Linked DNA regions of Homo sapiens. The protein of the gene in region 3 purifies or fractionates together with the protein of the main gene of each other region. This does not show direct contact. Each region holds a gene or a part of one and is shown on either strand. Other genes may lie near its edges. The genes, in order: TYSND1, DAPK3, JOSD2, RAB29, AHCYL2, SMARCA2 and EIF3B.

The links.
Region 1: the proteins of JOSD2 (region 3) and TYSND1 purify together in Homo sapiens (affinity purification with mass spectrometry; 4 studies listed by BioGRID and IntAct, with this or other methods). This does not show direct contact.
Region 2: the proteins of JOSD2 (region 3) and DAPK3 purify together in Homo sapiens (affinity purification with mass spectrometry, with the first as the bait; 2 studies listed by BioGRID). This does not show direct contact.
Region 4: the proteins of JOSD2 (region 3) and RAB29 purify together in Homo sapiens (affinity purification with mass spectrometry, with the first as the bait; 2 studies listed by BioGRID). This does not show direct contact.
Region 5: the proteins of JOSD2 (region 3) and AHCYL2 purify together in Homo sapiens (affinity purification with mass spectrometry; 5 studies listed by BioGRID and IntAct, with this or other methods). This does not show direct contact.
Region 6: the proteins of JOSD2 (region 3) and SMARCA2 purify together in Homo sapiens (affinity purification with mass spectrometry, with the first as the bait; 2 studies listed by BioGRID). This does not show direct contact.
Region 7: the proteins of JOSD2 (region 3) and EIF3B purify together in Homo sapiens (affinity purification with mass spectrometry, with the first as the bait; 2 studies listed by BioGRID). This does not show direct contact.

What each region holds. Positions count from the first base shown.
Region 1 is NC_000010.11:70,137,481-70,140,590, forward strand, and holds the end of TYSND1 (peroxisomal leader peptide-processing protease), read right to left. Parts: intron 2,662-3,110; coding exon 2,444-2,661; 3' UTR 501-2,443; downstream 1-500. UniProt on the Homo sapiens protein: Peroxisomal protease that mediates both the removal of the leader peptide from proteins containing a PTS2 target sequence and processes several PTS1-containing proteins.
Region 2 is NC_000019.10:3,964,600-3,968,099, forward strand, and holds part of DAPK3 (death-associated protein kinase 3), read right to left. Parts: intron 393-3,500; coding exon 32-392; intron 1-31. UniProt on the Homo sapiens protein: Serine/threonine kinase which is involved in the regulation of apoptosis, autophagy, transcription, translation and actin cytoskeleton reorganization. Involved in the regulation of smooth muscle contraction.
Region 3 is NC_000019.10:50,505,498-50,508,191, forward strand, and holds the end of JOSD2 (josephin-2), read right to left. Parts: intron 2,203-2,694; coding exon 2,077-2,202; intron 1,076-2,076; coding exon 881-1,075; intron 776-880; coding exon 676-775; 3' UTR 501-675; downstream 1-500. UniProt on the Homo sapiens protein: Cleaves 'Lys-63'-linked poly-ubiquitin chains, and with lesser efficiency 'Lys-48'-linked poly-ubiquitin chains (in vitro). May act as a deubiquitinating enzyme.
Region 4 is NC_000001.11:205,769,985-205,772,482, forward strand, and holds part of RAB29 (ras-related protein Rab-7L1), read right to left. Parts: intron 1,670-2,498; coding exon 1,488-1,669; intron 871-1,487; coding exon 749-870; intron 470-748; coding exon 358-469; 3' UTR 1-357. UniProt on the Homo sapiens protein: The small GTPases Rab are key regulators in vesicle trafficking. Essential for maintaining the integrity of the endosome-trans-Golgi network structure.
Region 5 is NC_000007.14:129,231,530-129,235,029, forward strand, and holds part of AHCYL2 (adenosylhomocysteinase 3), read left to right. Parts: intron 1-3,500. UniProt on the Homo sapiens protein: May regulate the electrogenic sodium/bicarbonate cotransporter SLC4A4 activity and Mg(2+)-sensitivity. On the contrary of its homolog AHCYL1, does not regulate ITPR1 sensitivity to inositol 1,4,5-trisphosphate.
Region 6 is NC_000009.12:2,186,347-2,189,846, reverse strand, and holds part of SMARCA2 (SWI/SNF-related matrix-associated actin-dependent regulator of chromatin subfamily A member 2), read right to left. Parts: intron 1-3,500. UniProt on the Homo sapiens protein: ATPase involved in transcriptional activation and repression of select genes by chromatin remodeling (alteration of DNA-nucleosome topology).
Region 7 is NC_000007.14:2,357,827-2,361,326, reverse strand, and holds part of EIF3B (eukaryotic translation initiation factor 3 subunit B), read right to left. Parts: intron 618-3,500; coding exon 425-617; intron 1-424.

The DNA.
Region 1 (3,110 bases), on a different chromosome or scaffold from region 3:
CTCTCACAGCAAAGTCAGACCTCAGATCTAGGATTCTGCTACCATTAACTTACTGTAGAACTTCTCTTAAACTAGCCATGACCTCTGGACCCATTCCTAATCTGTAAAGGGAGGAACAACCATCCCAGGAGTGTTCTGTGATTGCCCCGTGTTTTAGGAAAAACTCTCCTCAAATCGTGTTTTCCCTCTACTCTCATGCCATCACAATCATCAACACAGAAGACTTCAGTGACCAAATGTGTGTGGGGTTTCCCCACCAAAAGCAGTGGACATCAGCCGGGTGTCCTCTAATTCAGTTCCAACACTATCTACCCAGAGACATTGTCAGACCCCACAGGTTGAGGGTTCAGTCTCCAAGACTGCCCCCCTCAACCACACCAGGCACAAGTCTAGGCCTCCAGAACTTCTGACCAACTGGCTTCAAGTTGAGTTCCCACGACCTCCTTTTTGGGTTCAATTAATTTGCTAGAGTGGATCACAGAGCTCAGAGACACACTTACTTATGTTTACCGGTTTATTATAAAGGATATCGCAAAGGATACAGATGAAGAGATGCACATAGAGCAAGGAATGAGGGAAGGGGAAGGAGTGCAGAGCTTCCGTGCCCTCCCTGGGCACGCCACACTCCAGGAAGTGCCAGGTGTTCAGCTATCCAGAAGCTCTCTGAACCCTGTCCTCTTGGGTTTTTATGGAAGGTTCATGACATCAACATTCCTTCCCCTAGGATTGAGACCCTCTCATGGGAAGGTCTTTAGGACCCACTGTGAAAAAGGTGGGCGAACATTAGTGAAAGGATACCCAGAGGTCAGAGGCCTGTCCCAAGCCCTAACATACCCAGTATTCTAACAAAGACTGGAACAAGGACTATGAGAGTTACGAGTCAGGAATGCTGGATGAAAACCAATATATATCATAACACCACACCCAGCATTGGCACTCAGCACACAGGTGTTAGAAACAAGTTACTCCTAAGCACTCTTCCTGCGTGGCCTCCGCCCACAGCCGCCCCTCACAGGGCTTTCAGCCTGCCAGTAGAAATCACTCGAGGGCCCACACATGCAAGGCCCTGGGCACACGGCACAGTCCTGACTCAAAGAGTTGGCCTCAGCTCCTGGGGGCTGCCCTGGCCTCATTCACCCTTGAACTCCCCAACTGCCACCCACCTTAGGCATTCTTTAAGCATCTGCTGCCAGGTCAAGACCACCACCTTCCGGGACCTGCAAGCCCCACCCAGCTCTGACTGGCACATGACCAGCTATGAGGGCCAGTCTGGCAGGACCGTATCCCGTGAGCTCACACCCTGCTGAGAAAACAGCACAGAAAGGGTGTATTTCTGGGTTGGGCACAGTGGCTCACACCTGTAATCCCAGCACTTTGGGAAGCTGAGGCAGGAGGACTGCTTGAAACCAGAAGGCTGAAGCCAGCACGGGCAACAAAGCAATACCCCATTTCTACAAAAATAAAAAATTAGCCAGGCGTGGTGGTGCGCGACTGTAGTCCCAGCTATTCAGGAGGCTGAGGCAGGAGGTCTCCTGGAGCCCAGGAGTTTGAGGCTGCAGTGAGCTGTGATCGCAACACTGCACTCCAGCCTGGGTGAGAGAGCAAGACCACAGCTCTAAAGAAAAAAAAAAAAAAAAAAGGAAAGGGTGTGTTTCTTTGCCTGGTACTTGCCTATTCCCAGTTCAACTCCTGAAAAAAAGAAACAATTTGATATATAAATACAGAGGTTTTTCAATAGATCATGTTTATTCCCAAGCCCCAACCAGACATGTTCTACCCCTCAAGATCCCTGAGACCCAGGCTGTGGGCTGGAAAATGAAGGCACAGTGTCAAGAGCGCCCCTGTTGGCATATGAAGACCCAGGAGTGCTGACCTTCAGGGATCTGCCTGCACTGCCCATGGGCCTGGCACAGCAGGAGGCACTCCTGTTTCTGTCCCTTCTGTCTCTGGTCTTCAGAGCAAGGTTTCTGCTGAGATGCTAAGGAAGCTGAGTCCTTTGTCAGCCCTGACTCTGACTGAGAGGCAGACAGGAGCCAAGGCCCCATTGAAGCTCCAGGATGACGATGGCCCTCAGGGGAACAGACGCAAAACCAGGCACGGGCCTGCCTTCCAGCTGGAATCTACCTGTCAGGCCCAGAACTTCTGTGCAGTTGGAGTGGGCTCCCCAGAAGGAAAAACAATACAGCTGAGTCTAGTGCTAGGGGACAGAGAACTGGGGGCTCAAGAAAGCACCCCAAAACGGGCTGCCAGGTTAAGGATCCATGGGGCTGAAGAGAAGTTTGCCCCAGAGCCCAAAGCCCAGTCTGCAGTCAGTGGGTGGAGATGAGAGGCAGCCTGGGCCCCTGCAGGGGCTGGGCCCTGAATCCTGAGGCCACCGTCACCTCAACATCACTTCCTACAGCAGAAAAAGGTCACTCTTCTTTCCAAAGGTGGTAACACAGCCTCAGAGCTTGCTCCGCGGGGCCTCTGCCAGGGGCCGCTGCAACCGCCACACCACCCTGACTGGCTCAGCAGCGCGGTCCAGCTCACGGAGGCCACCTAGGTCTTGGGTCTGGCTGTACTGCTGCAGGGCCGGCTGGAGCACCGTGATGGGAATGCTGAAGTTCAGGTGGGGGTAGGTGGCCCCCGTATTATTGTCCCGGGTGTTGCTGGTGATTATGCCTGTTGAGGAGTCAGAGAGCAAAAGAGGATGTGAGCCAGGGGGCAGAAAGGCTGGAGAAGGGAGGAGGACCATCTCCACCCTGGAGCCCCCAGGGCCTGGTAGGGCTGGATACCACCCCACGTGGTGACAGACGCTGAGCTTCTAGACATGAACACCTGCTGCCCACACCCTTTCCTGGCTTTACGTTTTCTCCTTAACACTCTCAAAATCTAACACACTAGATAGTTCACTTATTTCACTTGTTATCTTTCTCTCGACCTAGTGTCAGCTCCATAAGGGCAGGACTTTGAGGTTTTGTTCATGCAGTCTCCCCAGTACCTGAAACAGTGCCTTGTGCCAAGTAGGCGCGCAACAAAGGCTTGTTGAATGAATGAATGAATGAATGAATGAATGAATGAATGAATGAATGAATCAGACCCACAGACATATTTTGTTTGGCCTGCTCGGT
Region 2 (3,500 bases), about 47 Mb from region 3:
GGCCGGCCCCACAGGGCCCTACAGGGCTCACCTTCAGGTCAAAGTGTGCGATGCGCTTAGAGTGCAGGTAGTGAACGCCGTCCAGGATCTGCTTGAGGAACTGGGTGGCCTCGTCCTCCGTCAGCGACTCCTTCTCCGCCAGGAAGTCAAAGAGCTCCCCGCCAGAGACCAGCTCCAGGATGAGGACCACGTCCGTCTTGTTCTCGAAGATGTCGTGCAGGGTGATGATGTTGGGGTGCCGGATCTCCCGCAGGATGTTCACCTCCCGCTCGATCTCCTCCCGGCTCACCCCACGCCGGCTGGATGACAGGCGGCGCTTCTTGATGAACTTGGCTGCGTACTCCTTGCCCGTGCCCTTCTGCCGGCACTTCCGCACGATCGCAAACTGGCCGCTGGAGGAGGGGGAGGGAGTGAGTGGGGGTGGAGGAGGCGGAGGGAGTAAGTGGGGGTGGCTGGCTCCCCGTCACCTCCACTTGCTCCTCTTGGGCGCGGCCCTGCACCAGGCACTTGAAGGACATGAGCTGGCCACTGCGGGGGTGCAGACTCTGCGCCTTCTCAGAGAGCAATTCCTTAGCGCCCCACACCATCAGACGCGGCGTTCCCACCCCTCCCAGGGCTATGCCCAGCAGGTGTGTGGAGGGGAGTGCAGAGCCACACGTTAACACCATGGCACCGGCGTATTTTTGAAAAGTGAAAGAATGAACAGTTCAATGCATATCAAGAGGGAACTGAGGGGGCCAGGCGCGGTGGCTCACGCCTGTAATCCCAGCACTTTGGGAGTTCGAGGAGGGCAGATAACTTGAGCTGAGGAGTTCAAGAGCAGCCTGGCCAACATGGTGAAACCCTGTCTCTACCAAAAATACAAAAAATTAGCTGGGTGTGGTGGCGGGTGCCTGTAATCCCAGCTACTTGGGAGGCTGAGGCAGGAGAATCGCTTGAACCTGGGAGGCAGAGGTTGCAGTGAACTGAGATTGTGCCACTGTACTCCAGCCTGGGCAACGTAGCAAGATCCTGCCTCAAAAAAATAAAAAGTGCAAGGCAAGTGCCAGATCCGCTTTTTTTGTTTTTGTTTTGTTTTGTCTTGAGACAGGGTCTGGCCCTGTTGCTCAGGCTGGAATGCAGTGGTTCAGTCATGGCTCACTGCAGCCTTGACCTCCTGGGCTCGGGCAATCCTCCTGCCTCAGCCTCTCAAGCAGCTGGGACTACAGGCACATACCACCACACCCAATTAATTTTTTTTTCTTTTTGTAAGGATGAGGTCTCACTATGTTGCCCACGCTGGTCTCGAACTCCTGGGCTCAAGTGATCCCTCCCAAGTAGGTGGGACTACAGGAACACACTACCACACCTGATTTATTTATTTTTTGTAGAGACAGGGTCTTGCCGTATTGCCCAGGCTGCTTTGGAACTCCTGGCCTCAAGAGATCCTCCCACTCCCCCACCCCAAGTGTTGGCAGTACAGGTGGAGCCGCTACATCTGGCCAGTATCCGCATTTTAAAGAAACCAAGGCTGAGAAAAGGAAAGCAACTAGCCCAAGGTCATGCAGTCAGTCAGTGGCGGGAGGATTCAAACCTTCAAACCAGGTGCTGCAGGCTCCAGAGCCCAGGTGCTCTAACAGGAAGCAGACAGCTGCTGCTGGGTACCGGGTTCCTGCGTGCCTACCTCCCGGCTCCACGCTGTCTCCTGCTAACAGACCCAGCTGTCCCAGGGCAGCCTTTGCCGCTCACTCTCAGTCTGTGGGACTCAGTGGCCCAGGAAAGGGGTGGAAGGGGACACGACTGGACCTGGGCAAGCAGAAAACCACGCCTTCCAGCCCAAAGAGACCGGTCCAGTCCACAGGGCTCTGAACGCCTGCTGGGAAGAGAGGATCTCTCTCTCCCTCTGCTGGGCTTGGATCCAGGCTCGCGGCAGGGGCCACCACGTAGAAGGCTACCTAAGAAGCCTGCCTAAGAACAGACCAGGCCAGGAGAGGGGAGCCACCAGGCACTGCGGGTGGCACATAAGCCCCGTCATTCACTCTGCCAGGGCGCCTCCTCCATGCTGGAGTGGACTTCGGCCCCGGGGACACAGGGCACCATATGCACCAGCACCCAGTCACACCTGCGGCCGCTGCACACCTGGACAACCTGGTTCTGTAAACCACGCCTTTCCCTGTTTTGCTATTGCCAACCAGATTTCAGGTTCTGCCACTGAGTCCTCCTACAGCAACAGCAGACCACAGCCGCCCACCTCCAGACAGCCCCCGGTCTCACTGGCCACAGACTTGCTCCTTAGAGGCAAGGCCACTGGCAGGCTCTCAGTTCCTCTACGGAATGTGAAACGTGCCTCATCTCCCCAGCCGGGAAAGAAACTCCCCAAGAGCTGAGCCCACCCTCTTCGCTTCTCTGTAACTTCCCCAGCCCCCAGCGCAGGTGGGGGCACAGCAAGCCCTCCTCAGTGATGGTCTCAGGTGTCACTCCCAACCCACTTCCTAAGTGCCTGCCACAACCCAGACACGACCCAAGCGTGGCCTACACACCGACAATTTCTACTGATAGAGTTCATGATGTTTAAAAATGCGGGCTGGGAAGCCGGGCACAGTGGCTCACGCCTGTAATCCCAGCACTTTGGGAGGCAAAAGCGTGCAGATCACGATGTCAGGAGTTCAAGACTAGCCTGACCAACATAGTGAAAGCCACGTCTCTACTAAAAATACAAAAACATTAGCCGGGCGTGCTGGCAGGCATCTATAATCCCAGCTACTCGGGAGGCTGAGGCAAGGAGAATCGCTTGAACCTGGGAGACGGAGGTTGCAGTGAGCTGAGATTGCGGCATTGCACTCCAGCCCGGGCGACACTGCAAGACTCCGTCTCAAAAAAAAAGTGTGGGCTGGGGCCAGGCACAGTGGCTCACACCTGTAATCCCAGCACTTTGGGAGGCAGAGGCGGGCAGATCATTTGAGGTCAGGAGTTCAAGACCAGCCTGGCCAACATGGCAAAACCCCGTCTCTACTAAAAATACAAAAATTAGCTGAGCACGTTGGTGGGCGCCTGTAATTCCAGCTACTTGGAAGGCTGAAGCAGGAGAATCACTTGAACCCGGGAGGCGAAGATTGCAGTGAGCCAAGATGGCACCACTGCACTCCAGTCTCGGCAACAGAGCCAGACACCGTCTCAAACAAACAAACAAAAATTGCTACATTCTGGGCCTTCATCTTGCACTTCATGTATCTCTGAGAATGTTCCAGACCACTACCTGAAGCAGTGCCGTCAGAACAGCAGACACTGGCCACCCAGAGCTGTCAAACCCGTGAGGTGTGGCCAGTCCCGAGAAAAACTGCGACATGAAATACACACCAGACCTCCAAGGCTTCACGGCAAAAACAGAAGGCTAAATACTTTTTTTAAAATTATGAATTTCTGTTTGTTTGAGAGATGGGGGTCAACTTATGTTGCCCAGGCTAGTCTTGAAGTCCTGGGCTCAAGCGATCCTCCCGCCTTGGCCTCCCAAAGCGCTAGAA
Region 3 (2,694 bases):
AAAATTTAAAGAAAGTAGTCAGGTATGGTGGCATGCACCCGTGGTCCCAGCTACTTGGGAGGCTGAGGTGGGAGGGTCGCTTGAGCCCAGGAGTTCAAGGCTACAGTGAGCTGTGATTGACCCACTGCACTCCAGCCTGGGTGACAGAGTGAGACCCCTGTCTCAATCAATCAATCAAATAAAGAAGTAAACACCTGCTTTCTCCTTAGCAATGACCCCCGTGGAACCCAGGAGATCAAACTCATTTGTTTGCCACTGGTCTCTCTCCAGCACCGGAGGAGCGTGAGCCCCAGGGGGCACGGACTTGTGTTTTTTTCTGCTGTGTCACTGATGAGGAAACTGAGGCCCAGCAGTGAGAAACTGGCATGAGGTGGCAGAGAACCAGGAGGCCTCCTGGGCTCTCGGCCCCACACACCAGGGTGTCTGGCCTGTAAGGTAAGTGGGAGTCACTGAGTGGAAGGGGCCCCAGAAGGGTGGGGCCGTCAGACACAGGCCAGGCAGGCAGCAAATCAGCAGATTTATTGAGGCAGCAGCGGCAGTGGGGAGCAGGGGTGTGGGGAGGGGGCGGGGCCTCCCCAGGGTCCATGAAGTGCTGGCCTTTCCCAGGCATGCAGTGTGCGCAGCCGGAGGGGGATGCGCAGGGACTGCGCTGTGGGCGCCGATGGTCAGCCATGGTCAGTCTGTCCGCAGCCAGCTGCCCTTCTCCTCCACCTCCTTGGTCACTACCAGCAGCACCTCGCACAGGCCCTGGGCCAGCGCAGCCGCCAGGAAGGCCCTGGGTGGGAGAAATGGGGAGACTGAGGCTCGGCCAGCCTGGGCATTCCGTCTGGGGAGTGGGGTTTCAGGCCCCTGGTCTTGGAATCGCCTCTGTGGGGCTCACCTGACTCCGTCCTCATCCCCCAGGGCCTCGGGCGCCCGCAGCTTGGAGTCCAGGTTGTAGTAGACACCGTCCACCTGGCGCAGGGCCACCCAGTGCCGCCGGCGCAGCGGCAGTGACAGCAGCCCCAGCGACACGGGCGAGGGCAGGTTCAGGATCAGCCCCAGTACCTGGGGCAGGGCCAGCTGGGACAGGGGCCTGTGTGGGCAGGGAGGGGACACTGCCATCAGGGCCTGCTCCGCCCGCCGGTGAAATGTTGCTGAACATGTGGGGCCCAGGCTGGTGGTGGTGAGGGCCTCCTGAGCCCACCCAGAGGTGTTCCTTAATCAGCCACCCTGGTTCCCGACACTCATCCGTTCACCTGCCCACTCAAACCTCCCACCCATGCGGCCACCCAACCAGACCTCCCACCCACCCACCCACCGTCCACCCACCCACCCACCGTCCACCCAACTCACATCGGCCCTTCACCAACCACCATCACCCTGTCTGTCCAGCCACCCACCCACCAACTTACCAACTCCTCACACAGCCACCCAGGATCCATGCATGATCCGCCCACCCCACTGAGCCTCCCAGCCACCAGCCAACTTCCCAATGACGATTCACACACTCACCTCCCATCTATGCATTCACTTCCATCCCTCATATACACCCGCCCCACCTCCCCGTCAACCACCCAACCACCATCACCATCCAACTAGCCATCTACTGTTCACCACCCACCACCCACCCACCCACCCACACAGCCGGCCACCACCCAGCCAGCCATTCACCCAACAGTGGACTCGCCATGCCCCCAATCCTCACTCACTCTTGACCCCCCTGCCATTGGTCTACCCCTCATCCACCAGCCACATGCCCAGCCACTGGCCAGCCGGCCATCAAAACTTCCCATTCATCCACCCAACTCCCCAGCCTCCTGTCTGCTGCCCATTGCCCAGGAACACCCATCACTTCACTCCCCCTGACCCAACACATCCAACGGCCTACTCAGCATTCACCCAGTAACCATCATCCACCCAGCATCTCAGCCCATCGACCACCTGATCTCCCCCTTTCAACCCATCAGTGCCAGGCTTCCCACATTCATGCCAACCTCCCCCAGCCACATTCCCCTCCCTGCCCCCCAACAGGCTCACACTATAGGGTGCCCTCTGTGCCCGGCCCAGCACATGCTGTGCTGCTCTGGGGCCTACCTCCTCCTGTCCCACCACACGGCGGCCAGGCCCAGCCCCTGCAGAGCGGCCATGATCACATTGACATCATAGTTGCCGGTGCCCAGGAGGCTGCGATGAGGGTTCAGCCGGGAGTCTGGGGCCAACCTGGTAGTGGGGGTGGCCAGAGCTGAGGTGGGGACCCCTGGAAAGGCCTCCCCACAAAATGGGGGTCCCAGGGGCCACAAGTTGCCTCAGCCTTTGACTCTCCCCGCTTCAGACCCCACAACTCATCCACCCCCAAGTCCTGCCTCTCCTGCCCCAATTCTGCCCTGTCCCCAAGTCCTGTCTCTCCTGCCCTGACTCTGCCCTGTCCCCAAGTCCTGCCTCTCCTGCCCCGACTCTGCCCTGTCCCCAAGTCCTGCCTCTCCTGCCCCAACTCTGCCCTGTCCCCAAGTCCTGTCTCTCCTGCCCTGACTCTGCCCTGTCCCCAAGTCCTGTCTCTCCTGCCCTGACTCTGCCCTGTCCCCAAGGCCCCAGATGGGCTCTGTCTTCTCCCGCAGCCTCCAGCCTCCCTCCAGTCCATTCCCACACGGCCCTGGCCCTCTCCTGCTCTCAGCTCTCCCATGGCTCCCCAATGCCTTGGACAAAGTCCCTGTC
Region 4 (2,498 bases), on a different chromosome or scaffold from region 3:
ATCAAATGGAAAAATAAGCTCAGAAGTAGGTGAGAATTATGATCTCTAAAACGCAGGTGCTGATTTCTAATCCTTCTCATAAAATTCCGGATCACAAATTGAGGGCTGATGAGAAGATCTTACACCGAAGGCACTAACTGGCACTAATGTGAGCCAGCAACATGTGAAAGGCTAATCCAGGAGATGCAGAAATGCACATGGGTTCCAGGTGTCTTTTCTAAGTGACAATGGGCCTCCTTACTGGACAGTAGTCAGGAGACAATTCAAATGTACTTAATAAAATTGTCAGGTGGGCAACCAAAGGGAAGAGACTTAAAAGACCTCCCAGAACTGGGATGGAAAATAAGCCAAACACTACTAGCAGCAGGACCAGCTGGAGGACTTGGTTTGTAGATTGATGTAGTCCCCTTGGGTGGACAAAGACATGATATCTTCTGTGGAATTTCTCATCATCTTTTCAATGAGGACTCTAAAAGACAAAAAATAAGCCTGAGAAGCTTATTTTGGAGGAAAAGCAGAAATGGCAGATGTAGTCTGACTTATCATCAGAGAGTATTTGGTAAAGCCAGAAGGTTTAAATGCCCCTTTGTCCCCAGTTATCTCAGGAAAGACAGTATCCCTGACCTTTAGGGGCTAGCATTCCAATGGCTCAGTCTGTCATTGTTGGCTCAGAAATAAGAAAAGAGGGTCCACAGGGCCACAGTGGAAGATGGATACATCTGCATGCCTATCAGCATGAGCTACTTACCTCATAGCCTCATTAATATTTTTGTTCTCCTTGACTGATGTTTCTGTCCAACCTGTGAAACCGTTCTCTTTACTGAACCGGTCAATCTGGTCCCGGCTCACTGCCCAAGGGGACAGATCACACTAGCAAAGAGAAAAAATAAAAGGCAGTATCATAAACTTCCTGCAACTAAGAAAGAATATGGCTCAGATACTGTGGATTTTAAACATATTTCCACCAATGGATAAGAACACCAGCATCGGAAATCTATAATCAACATTCTTCCCAAAGAAAGTCTCACCCTTGGCTGGGCGCAGTGGCTCACGCCTGTAATCCCAGCACTTTGGGAGGCTGAGGCGGGCAGATCATGAGGTCAGGAGAGCGAGACCATCCTGGCTAACACAATGAAACCCAGTCTCTACTAAAAATACAAAAAAATTAGCTGGGTGTGGTGGTGGGCACCTGTAGTCCCAGCTACTCGGGAGGCTGAGGCAAGAGAATGGCGTGAACCTGGGAGGCAGAGCTGGCAGTGAGCCGAGATCGCGCCACTGCACTCCAGCCTGAGCAACAGAGCGAGACTCCGTCTCAAAAAAAAAAAAAAGAAAGAAAGTCTCACTCACCCTCAACATCCTTTGAAGGAGGTAGAGATGATTTTGCCAACTTAAGAAGGGGAAATGGATGCCCAGAATCAGAGAGCATTTTACTTCCTTTCTAACCACAGATAGAGGCTAGGGACCATTTTCTGAGATTGGCCACATACCTTGTTGGCCAAGAGCAGGCAGGGCACCGGCTCTCCATTGGGTAGTGTGAGCTTGCTGTCTAGGTCCTGTTTCCACCTCTGGCTGTTGCTGAAGGTAGTGGCATTGGTAACGTCAAACATAATAACACAGGCAGAGGCATCCCGATAATACAATCGTGTCATAGAGGTGAAGCGCTCCTGCCCTGGGGAGAAAGGGGAGAGTTCTCAAGGTGACCCAAGAGCCGGCCTCTCCCCATTCCTTGTAGAAGAGGGCAGTAAGCATATGTGTCAGATGGGGCCACTCACTTTCCCCCTCTGACTCTTGGTTTTCTATCCCATAAAGGGATAATGAAGCCCAATTATTTCCAAGGCAGATTCCGCACCCAGATTGCTCCAGTCCAAATCCCTGCTCTGCTGCATACTATTTGACTTCGGGCAAATCAAGCTCTCAGTGCTTCAGATTTCTCATTTGTAAAGTGAAGATAAAAGCAGTCGCTTTTTTTTTTTTTTTTTGAAACAGTTTCCTGCACTCCTGTTGCCCAGGCTGGAGTGCAGTGGTGCCATCTAGGCTCACTGCAACCTCCACCTCCCAGGTTCAAGCAATTCTCCAAAAGCAGTAGCTTTTATGATAGGGTTGATGTGAGGATTAATGAGTCAGTGAATTTAAAATACTTAGAAGAATGCTTGGCACATAGTAAGGATTCACTATTTTTACTGTATCTATTTTCTGGGGATCTTGTTTTTCACCAAGGTCAGCCTTAAACCTAGAAAAAGCACCCTCCCCTGCTGTGGGAGTGTCCACCTATAGTCTGGACAATCCACCACCTTGCCAGCCCCTCCATCCACATAGAGACTGCTCCAGATCTATTCAGGGCAAAACATCTACAAAAGCTCTGCACCTATTCAGCTCATGTGTCCTCAGAGCAGCTCAATCATTCCAGCTTCAGAAAAACAATTTCTGGCTTTGCTGCCCCATTTTTTCCTCAGAGCTTTCTAGTTAAATCAAAATTTCTTCCCTTGTTCCTATCTAGC
Region 5 (3,500 bases), on a different chromosome or scaffold from region 3:
AAATAATTTAGAGAGGTACAACTGAGGCAGATGGGAAGAGAACAATCTTGGCAGTTGCCCTGATCCACTGCCCTGCTGTCATGTTTAGGTGGTAGACACAATTAGAGGAGCTGAAATTCCATTCACCCAACAAGAGGTTTAGTAAACTTGATCAGATTTCTATGGAATTTGTAGGAGCTTTTTATAGTCTGAATGACCTATGGCCTGCGATTTGGTGAGAGCAGAGCAGAAAGCGGCAGTGGATTGACGTTTCTTCTGTAACAGTTCCCAACTCTAAAATTACTTTGATTAAATTAGATGATTATTTGTATGGGTTTCAGTCTCCCTTTTCCCCAGCTGTATCGTGCAACAGTTCAGTTAGCTATTTCCCTCTTGGACGCTTGCACTAAAAGCTGGTGATTTTATTTTCTTTTTTTTTTTCAAGGGTCTATCAGTAGAAATCTATTGGTTTGGGGCACCTAGTTCTTAGCTTAGAACCTATATAAAGGAAGGGTATTTGAACTGCTGATTGAGTTTCTCTGAGTATAGGACTTTAGCCTTTCTGAATGTTGCAAACCTGAGGCTAAAACTAGCTTCATCTTCTCTGCACACACTTACATTCTACAGTGCTCCAAGGTGAAACTTCATCTATTGACTACCTTTTCTTGGAAACTCTTCTCTTGGCTTCAGTGTCACTTATAATTGCTACCATTTACTGAATACTTACTCCGTGTCAGGAATCTCTGTCTTAGTATTTAATCCTCATGACAACTTTATCAGATGTGTAGTACTATCTTTATATTATGGATAAGAAAATATAGGCTCAAAGAGAGTAATTAACTTGTCCAAGGCTTTGTCAATGAAATGCTGGCCATAGCAATATTGGGCAGCTTTGCCTCTGTGCCAACACCCGTGCTGCTCTGACCAGACTCCCACTGAAGTCTGCTTAAGCTGCTGCTAAGACCACTTTGGATCTCACAATCTAGCCTCTTTCAAGGGGAGGCCTAAACACCATGCCTCACATCCCTGTTTGTTTCAGTCACTACCCGCCATCCGCCATCCATTATCTTCCCAATACTAATTCCTTTACCACTCTCTTCATCCTTCAGCTGATTCAGTCCCTCAAACTGTTCCACCATGTTCTTTACAATATCCCCCTCCTTGATCAGCAGATTCACATGTAGTATCAGTCTCTAGCAGCAAGATCAAGTTATAAGGGCAACAGTGGCAAGTGTTAGCACTTAGTATCCAGAACTGTGATGGTGCAAACCAAGCTGCAGCATCTCCTGCTTGGCATTAGCAATCACATCTTTGCCAACCCAGTTCTGTAATTTTGAGTGTTGTTTTAGCTGTGTAGCACTTAAGTTCTTCACTGAAAAAGTGACCTCATATCCTTTCTGTAAATTCTTTTTCTGTTTAATTCAGCCAGTGTTGACTTCTGCTGCTTGTAGAACTTGGAGTGATGTACGGGTTGAACCTAACCATCTACCTTCTTAGTTGCTGGCACTCATGGAGCTGAGAGTTGCTAGAGAAAATCAGCAAATTAGACAGATCAGTGTCATTAAAAATTTATAATCATCTATTTCATATGCATAATCAGCATTACCTAGCAATGTTATACATTTCTCTAGTTCACTTTCCAGCTCACTGCGAATTATTTCTTCATATTGTCTCTTTCTCTTTTCTTTTTTACTGAGACAAGGTCTCCCTCTCTCACCCAGGCTGGAGTGCAGTGGTACAGTCACAGCTCACTGTAGCCTCAAACTCCCTGGTTCAAGCAATCCTCCTGTCTCAGCCTCCTGAGTAGCCAGAACTACAAGTGTGCTACCACGCCTGGCTATTTTTTTATTTTTTTGTAGAGACGGTATCTTGCCATGTTGCAGGTCTCCAATTCTCGGGCTCAAGTGATCCTCCTGTCTCACCCTTCCAAAGTGCTGGGATTATAGGCATTAGCCACTGTGCCTGGCCTACTGTCTCTATTTCTTTTTCTCTTTTTTTGAGATGGAATCTTGCTCTGTCCCCAGGCTGGAGTGCAGTGGCGCGATCTCCGCTCACTGCAACCTCCGCCTCCCGGGTTCAAGCGATTCTCCTGCCTCAGCCTCATGAGTAGCTGGGACTACAGGCACGCACTACCACGCCCAGCTAATTTTTGTATTGTTAGTAGAGATGGCGTTTCACCGTGTTCGCCAGAATGGCTCAATCTCCTGACCTCGTGATCCGCCCTCCTCAGCCTCCCAAAGTGCTGAGATTATGGGCATGAGCCACCGTGCCCAGCTCTTATTTCTAATCTCTCATATTTTCTTCTTTTTTAACCAGTCATAGGCTTTATGCCTCATTATAAAAATGGAAGCTGCTGAATGGGAATTCCTTCATTCTTTTACCTCCCAAGTCTACAAACCTATGTGCATCTGGGACTCATCTTTTTCTCCTTCATTCTGTCAAGACCAATCCCTTCACAGGTGCTGTAATCATTCTTTTCTCCCCCTCCCCCCTTCCTCCTCCTTTCTTTTTCTATCTTTCTTCTCTCTCTTTCTCTTTGTTTTCATTCATTTTTCTTCAAGAGATGAAGTCTCACTCTGTAGCCCAGGCAGGAGTGCAGTGGTGTGGTCATAGCTCATTGCACCCTCAACCTCCTGAGCTCAATAGAACCTCCCTTCTCAGCCTCCCGAGTAGCTGGGACTATAGGTGCATGCCACCATACCTGGCTAATTTTTTTATGACTTTCTTGTAGAGATGGGGTCTCTTTTTTCCCCCTAGATGGAGCCTTACTCTGTCACCCAGGCTGGACTGCAGTGGCACTATCTCGGCTCACTGCAACCTCCGCCTCGTGAGTTCAAGCAATTCTGCTGCCTCGGCCTCTCAAGTAGCTGGGATTACAGGCATCCGCCACTGTGCCTGGCTAATTTTTGTATTTTTAGTAGAGACGGGGTTTCACCAGGTTGGCCAGGCTGGTCTGGAACTCCTGACCTTGTGATCTGCCCACTTTGGCCTCTCAAAGTGCTGGGATTACAGGCGCGAGCCCACACCTGGCCAAGATGGGGTCTCTTGCTATGTTGCCTAGGCTGGTCTTGAACTCCCAGCTTCAAGTGATCCTTCCTCCTTGGCCTTTGAAAGTACTGGGATTATAAGCATGAGCCGCTGCACCCAGCCACATTTTAAAAACTTTTTGTAGAGATGGTGTCTCACTTTGTTGCCCAGGCTGGCCTCGAATTCCTCGCTTCAAGCAGTCCTTCTGCCTCACCCTCCCAAAGTGCTGGGATTACAGGTGTGAGCCACTGTGCTTGGCCTCTCCTGTCTTAAAGAATTTCTTCCTTTGGTTTATTTCATCTTTCTACTAGGTCTTTTCCTTCAGAATTCACACTTGCCCTATTGTCTCCCATTTTGAAAACCCTGTCCTTTGACCTGCATATTTTCTGTTGCTGTCATGTTTTTCTATTCTCTTTCACAGGCATGCTTCTTAAAGGAGTTTTCAGTACATGCTATATGTGCTTTTTTCCTCTCATGAATTCCTTAACTCACTC
Region 6 (3,500 bases), on a different chromosome or scaffold from region 3:
CCACAGAAACATAAGCTAACAGAAGAGATGAGAGCTGTGCTGTTATGAACTCAAGTGTGGTGGTAGCATTTGCCTTTCCTCCATTCCAAATCCTAATACACAAAATAGTACTCCTAGCCAAGGCTTCTATCTATTATACCCACTGTCTGCTGCTTGACAAGCTATAAGGTGGGGCCCTTTGCTTTGGGTGGAGTAACTTAGGAGAAGAAGAAGAGACTGGAGATGAAAAGGCCTACCTACTAATGAAAACGGAAAGATGTAGGACGTCGAAAGAAATAGATGAAAGAAGCCAGTCATAATGGGCATTTCTAAACAGTGTGGAAAGACAAAGTGAAATATGTCCATTTATACAGGTGTGGGCTCTCCCTGACACAGGAGTATAGGAAATGAATGGGCAGAAGACAGGCAATAGGGGTAAGAAAATGTATCCTTGAGAGCGTAATCTAAATGTGCCTTGGAGTGTGGCGCACTCTAATGCTGTCAGGCACGCGTCAGTGGATATGTCTCTCCAAAAAACCCACCTGACAGACTATGGACAAGCAGGCTAATAAACTGGACCATTAGGTGAGCCCTATAAACAGCTTCCTAAGGTTTTATGATACAACCATATGCACCTATGAAAAGTTCTAGCTACCAAGTGTGGTGGACAGAATATCATCTCCTCACAAGATGTCCATATCCTAATCCAAGAACCTCTGAATATGTTATATTACATGGCAAAAGGAATTTTAGACTGTTAATTGTCTGACCCTGAGATGGGGAAATTATAGTGGATTATCCAGGTGGGCCCAGTCTAATCATCTGCATCCTTAAACGTGGAAGAGGAAGACGCAAAAGAGAGATTCATGGAGACACAACATGAGAAGGACTGTACCTGTCATTGCTGGCTTTAAAGTTGGAACAAGGGGTAGGGGTGGGGAGGCAATGAGCCAAAGAACACTGTTGGGAACAGCCTTCCACTGGCAGCCAGCAAGAAAGTGGGAACTTTGTTTCTACGAACACAAGAAATTGAACTCTGCTGAGAACCAGGATGAACAAGGAAATGGGATTCCTATCTAGAGCATCCAGAAAGGAATGCAGGCTGCTGACACATTGATCTTAGTCCAGGGAGACTCATGCTGAACCTGTGACCCACAAGAGGTAATAAGTTTGTGTTGTATTAAAGTCACTAAGTTTGTGGTAATTTGTTATAGCAGCAATAGAAAATTAATATACCAAGGCTTGAGAAATTAAACTAAATTGATGGATGGGGGAAGAGAGCAGCTCTTTGAAAACAGATTAGAAATCTGGCTCTAAAATAATGAAATATATAGCTAAAATAGATGATGCAGATGTATTCAAATGCTAGAACAAAGGAATAACTACATGAATTTGGGACAGTTTAAATTCATAACAAATAAAAGGCAGAATCACTAACTAGAATATAGATAATAGAAAATGACGTTGGGAAAGAGTCGCTTATGTATGTTGAGGGCAAGAATGGAAACTCCATTCTCTGTGGCAATGTGTATACATCACATACATTTTACATCTTTTCAATAATCTATGGGTAAAATGCTCAGGACAGCATTATTGGGAAACAGCCTGATTAACAGAGTATAATTAACACGTTACAGTACATTCACATTCATTAATGAATGTTAATATGTATTATACATATTAATATATGTTGCTGTAGAAAAACCCTCATTGCCATGGAAAGTGTTCATAATAAGTACAAAAATCATTACATTTTCCAAATCATCTGTATTAACATGTAATTAGAAACCTAATAATTTTTTAAAAGCATGTCTATACTTTTAATATATTTGAAAAGGTAAAAAAACGTGTAATTCTATATCTCTACATACATGTAATATTTTGAGACGTTACCTTTTTTTCCACACATAAATTTGTTTATAAAAACATAGCACACAGTTTTGTGGCATGATTTTTGTACTTATTATGAATATATTGATCAGGCTTGTCTCAAACTGGTGACTTCAAGTGATCCAGCCACCTCAGCTTCCCAAAGTGCTAGGATTACAGGCATGAGCCACTGGGCTCGGCTTATACTGTAAAACATAGGTTTTAGTACTTTACTTTGAGAGGTATACAGTGAAGACACACATAGGAAAGAAGAAATTTTATGTTTTAAAATATTTATTAATTATATTTAAAATTTTTTTTTTAGATAGAGTTTTGTTCTGTTGCCCAGGCTGGAGGGCAGCGGTATGATCATAGCTCACTGCAGCCTTGAACACCTAGACTAAGCAATCCTCCTGCCTCAGCTTCCTGAGTAGCTGGGACTATAGACACGTGCCACCACACTTGGCTATTTCTTTTTACAAACATTTTTGTAGAGATAGGGTCTTGCTATGTTATCCAGGCTGGTCTTGAACTCCTAGCCTCAAGCTATCCTTCTGCCTCAGCCTCCCAGAGTGCTCGGATTATATTTGTGAGCCAACATGCCTCACTAAGAAGAAATTTTCAACTTCTGACAGCACCCTTAACCTTTGGAATATTTGGGTTATCAGTCACGGCTGGAACTAGGGTCAAACAATGGAGGCACGCACCTTGGGTGTAAAATTTAAGGGGGCACCAAAACCCAGTCATCAACTAATATCCTAAAAGGTAAATATTTTAAAAACCCAAATTAATGCCCCCCAAATCCATGATAAACAAACTATCAACATTTTAAATAAAGACAGTACCCTGTCATCACCCCTCTTCCCCTGGCAAAAAAAAAATTCTATGCAAAATTCACAGTTCCAACTCAGTTTGACAATTATTTTCTAAAGCTGTGATTCTCAAGGTGTGGTCCTTGGCCCAACATCATCAGTTCCCCCTGGGAATTTGCCAGAAATACGGATTCTCAGGCCCCACAACAGGCTACTGGATCAAACACTGGCATATTCTTCAAGCCCTCCAGGTTTGAGAACCACCGTGGTAAAGAAGAGAAGATAGGTGGCATTAGCAGCAGTGTTGTAGAAAATGTGTAGTAGGCTAATATTCAAAGGCAACATTCAGAAAGTGTTTGCAGGTCAGGTGTGGCGGCTTGTGCCTATAATCCCAGCACTTTGGGAGGCCGAGGCGGGTGGATCACGTGAGGCCAGGAGTTTGAGACCAGCCTTGCCAACATGGTGACACTCCATCTCTACTAAAAATATAAAAATTAGCCGGGCGTGGTGGCACACGCCTGTAATTCCAGCTACTCGGGAGGCTGAGGCAGGTGAATCACTTGAACCTGGGAGGTGGAGGTTGCAGTGAGCTACTGGGAGGTGGAGGTTGCAGTGAGCTAAGATCATGCCACTGCACTCCGGCCTGGGTGACAGAGTGAGACCCTGTCTCAAAAATAAATAAATAAAAGAAATAAAACAGTGTTTGCTAGGAGCCCAGCCTATGCTAAACATTTTACATGCTTGGAGGTCATTTTTATGACCTCAGTTTTATAGATGAGAAAACTGAGCATGAGCAGGGATAAGGACATGGCCACCGGTTGCCCAGCAAGGACAAAGTGG
Region 7 (3,500 bases), on a different chromosome or scaffold from region 3:
ATTACCTGTATTTGATAATTCTAGAAACTAAAACTATTCTAGTTAGTTTTTACTTTATTTATTTATTTTAGAGACAGAGTCTTGCTCTGTCACCCAGACTGGAGTACAGCTACGTTATCATAGCTCACTGCAGCCTCCAACTCCTGGCCTCAGGCTTCAAGAGTGTTGGGAGTTTATGCATAAGCCACCATGCTGGCCTATTCTAGATAATTTTAAAAACTTTAAAACCTTAACTTAAAAAAACAAACTTTATCATCTTCTCATTCACTGCTCTGGATAGCTTCCAGCTGAGGGCGGCCTGAAGAAGTGAACGGCCCACGTGCCTGGGCAAGGCAGGAGCTGTGTTAGTAAGGATCTCCTGCAACACTCCCTCATCATGACGTGCCAGACACAGATGATACTTCTCCAACAGGAGAACACTCACCCTTTTGTCTTCCCATCCTCTTCAGGATAAAAATCATTTGTGATTTTCCCAAACTTGGAAAAGATCTTGTGGATGACATTTTTGAGTTTCTCAAGTCGGTCGGGTCCCACCTGAGGGACATTGTCCACTACAATCACCGAATCGATTCCATCTGCTTCCTGGGGCCGATCTTTGAGTACATCTCCCAGTAATTCTGAACAAGAGAGATTTTTCAAATGATCATTTTTACCAAGAAAAACATTAATACATTAACTGAGCACACTAAACAAGTCTTCAAGAAGAGACAATGAATTGTCTAAATGCTTTCACTGTGAGCAAAAGAAATCCTAACCCTAGCTTGTTTCAGATTTTAAACATGACAGCTGGGGGGACTGGAACTCTCCTCTCTCCCTTTGATGGAAATGTAAACAGTCAAGACAGGTCAATTAAGTTCTGGTAATAACCAAAGACTACAGGAGAATAACAGTGAAAAGCTTTTAACAATGCACAATGCAAATGAAGAAGACCATCTCAAGAATATCCACTATTAGATCTTCCAGAGATGCCTAGATTTTGAAAGGTTTGTTGCAACATCTAGGCAGGCAGAATCCCATCCCAATGTCAATGAAAACTGACTTTTTACAGAAGATTTTAGCAAACAAGTAAATATTTAAATGCTCAATATATTCACAGCACATTTGTGCTGTGAATACAAATTACCAGAAATTATTCAAGGAGGAACCCTCTCTCGAGTGAACTGGGATGAAAGTAGTAACTCTTCTCCCACCTCCTGTTCCCAGTGATTTTCATGTTTTCAGGCCGTGAACTGGATGGCCATTCACAGGGGATGGGGAAAAAACCCAAAGAGGAAGCGCGTCTGGGGTGAGCTTCCCCACCTCTCTCCGCTGCAGAGCCCACCACCACGCACCTTCGTTCAGAACAATCTTTACCCAATATTCCTTAGGTTAAAAAGCTCTAAGGATAAACAACTGAACTGCAGGAGACAGGGATGTGACAGTGTCTTTCCTACTCACGTAACACTCAACACAACGCCTGACACCGGACGTGGGTGTCGCATCAAGCAGTTCTCCAGGGGCCACCAGCTGGGTGTCCTCTAACTTAATCCAATTCAGACACTATCTACCAGGAATTAGCATCAGATCCCACAGGCTGAAGGCTCAGCCCCAAAGACTGGCCCCCATTTCAGATGGCAGTCGCAAGTAGTGGGCTGTCACCTCCGGTTCTGACCGACAGGCTACAAAGCAGGGCTCCCACTATCCCTCGCTTCTTGGGTTCCATTAATTTACTGCAGCAGCTTACAGAATTCAGAGAGCTAGGTTTGCCAGCTTATTATAACGGACGTTACAGAGGATATAGACGAAAAGGCAGATGGAGGAGAAGCGCAGAGCCTCCCTGTGCTCTCCAGGCCACCACCCTGCAGAAGCCTCCACCTGTTCCGCTGCATGGAGCCCCTGAACCTGGTCCTTTTGGGTTTCTATGAAGATCTCATTATAGAGGCGTGATTAATGACATCACTGAGCACCGGTGATCAACTCAACTTTCAGCCCTCTTCCTTCTGGGTGGCAGGGGGAGACCTAAAAGGTCCCACCCTCTAATCACGTGGTTGGTTCCCTGGCAAGGAGCCCCAGCCATCAATCAAGTCCTCGTCTACAAAAAGACACTTACCACTTTGGAAATTACAAGGGTTTAGACGCTGAGTGCCAAGAGCCAGGCAGAGCCCAAATACACATTTCTTAATTATATCACAAAGAGCCTTTTTGAAAAACACTATCAGGGCAGAGACCGGCACTTAAACTAGGAGACTGGAGAATATACAAGCTCCTGAAACAACTTTTTTTTTTCTTTGTAAAGAGACAGGGTCTTGTTATGCTGCCCAGGCTAGCCTGGAACTCCTGGGCTCTAGCAATCCTCCTGCCTCAGCCTCCCAAGTAGCAGGGACTACAGGTGGGAGCTGCCACCCCCACTGAGATTAAATAACAGTATTTTTTTCTTAGTGGTAGGTGAAGCTGTTCTTGATGTGATGAAATGCCTCGCAGGGCTGCTGGAAAGCATCACGTGTCAGAATTTAGAACACGGCCAGGCTCAGTGGCTCACGCCTGTAATCCCAGCATTTTGGGAGGCCGAGGCAGGCAGATTACCTGAGGCCAGGAGTTCAAGACCAGCCTGGCCAACATGGTGAAACCTGTCCCTAATAAAAATACGAGAAAAATGATCCAAGCATGGTGGTGGGTGCCTGTAATTCCAGCTACTGGAGAGGCTGGGGCAGGAGAATCGCTTGAACCCAGGAGATGGAGGTTGCAGTGAGCCAAGATCATGCCACTGCACTCCAGCCTGGGAGACAGAGTGAGACTCCATCTCAAATAATAATAATAATGATAATTCCAACATACTAAATATGCAGATGTCCGAAAATATTCTTTACTGTATTTATTCTCAAAAGTTGGCTGGGCATGGTGGCTCACTCCAGCGACAGAGCAAGACTCCGTCTCAAAAAAACACTTTCGGAAATATTGAAAACTGACCCAGCATGGTGGCTCACGCCTGTAATCCCAGCATTTTTGGAAGCCAAGGAAGGCAAATCACATGAGGCCAGGAGTTCGAGACCAGCCTGGCCAACAAGGCAAAACCCCATCTGTATTAAAAATACAAAAAGTAGCCAGGCATGGTGGCACATGCTTATAATCCCAGCTACTTGGGAGGCTGAGGCAGGAAAATCGCTTGAAGCGGGGAGGCAGAGGCTGCGGTGAGCCATTGCACTCCAGTCTGAGCAAGAGAATGAGACTCTGTCTCAAAAAAAAAAAGGAAATATTGAAAATACTGCCTTAAAAAATAATCGCCGTTTTATTTTCAACGATGCTAAAATTGAGACGAACAAGAGAAAAAAAAAGGGAAAAAGGCAGTTGCCAGTCACTGCAGTGCCGGACACCCTGCTATGGAAACTAGTCAAATCCTAGGGTAACTTCTAAAGCACTTACCATACAATTAAATAGCCTGACAAGCCTGATCTGAATTTATAAGGCTGCAATAAAAAGCTCAACTTTTACACAAATTGGGTACTCCTTCCCACAAGCTCAAA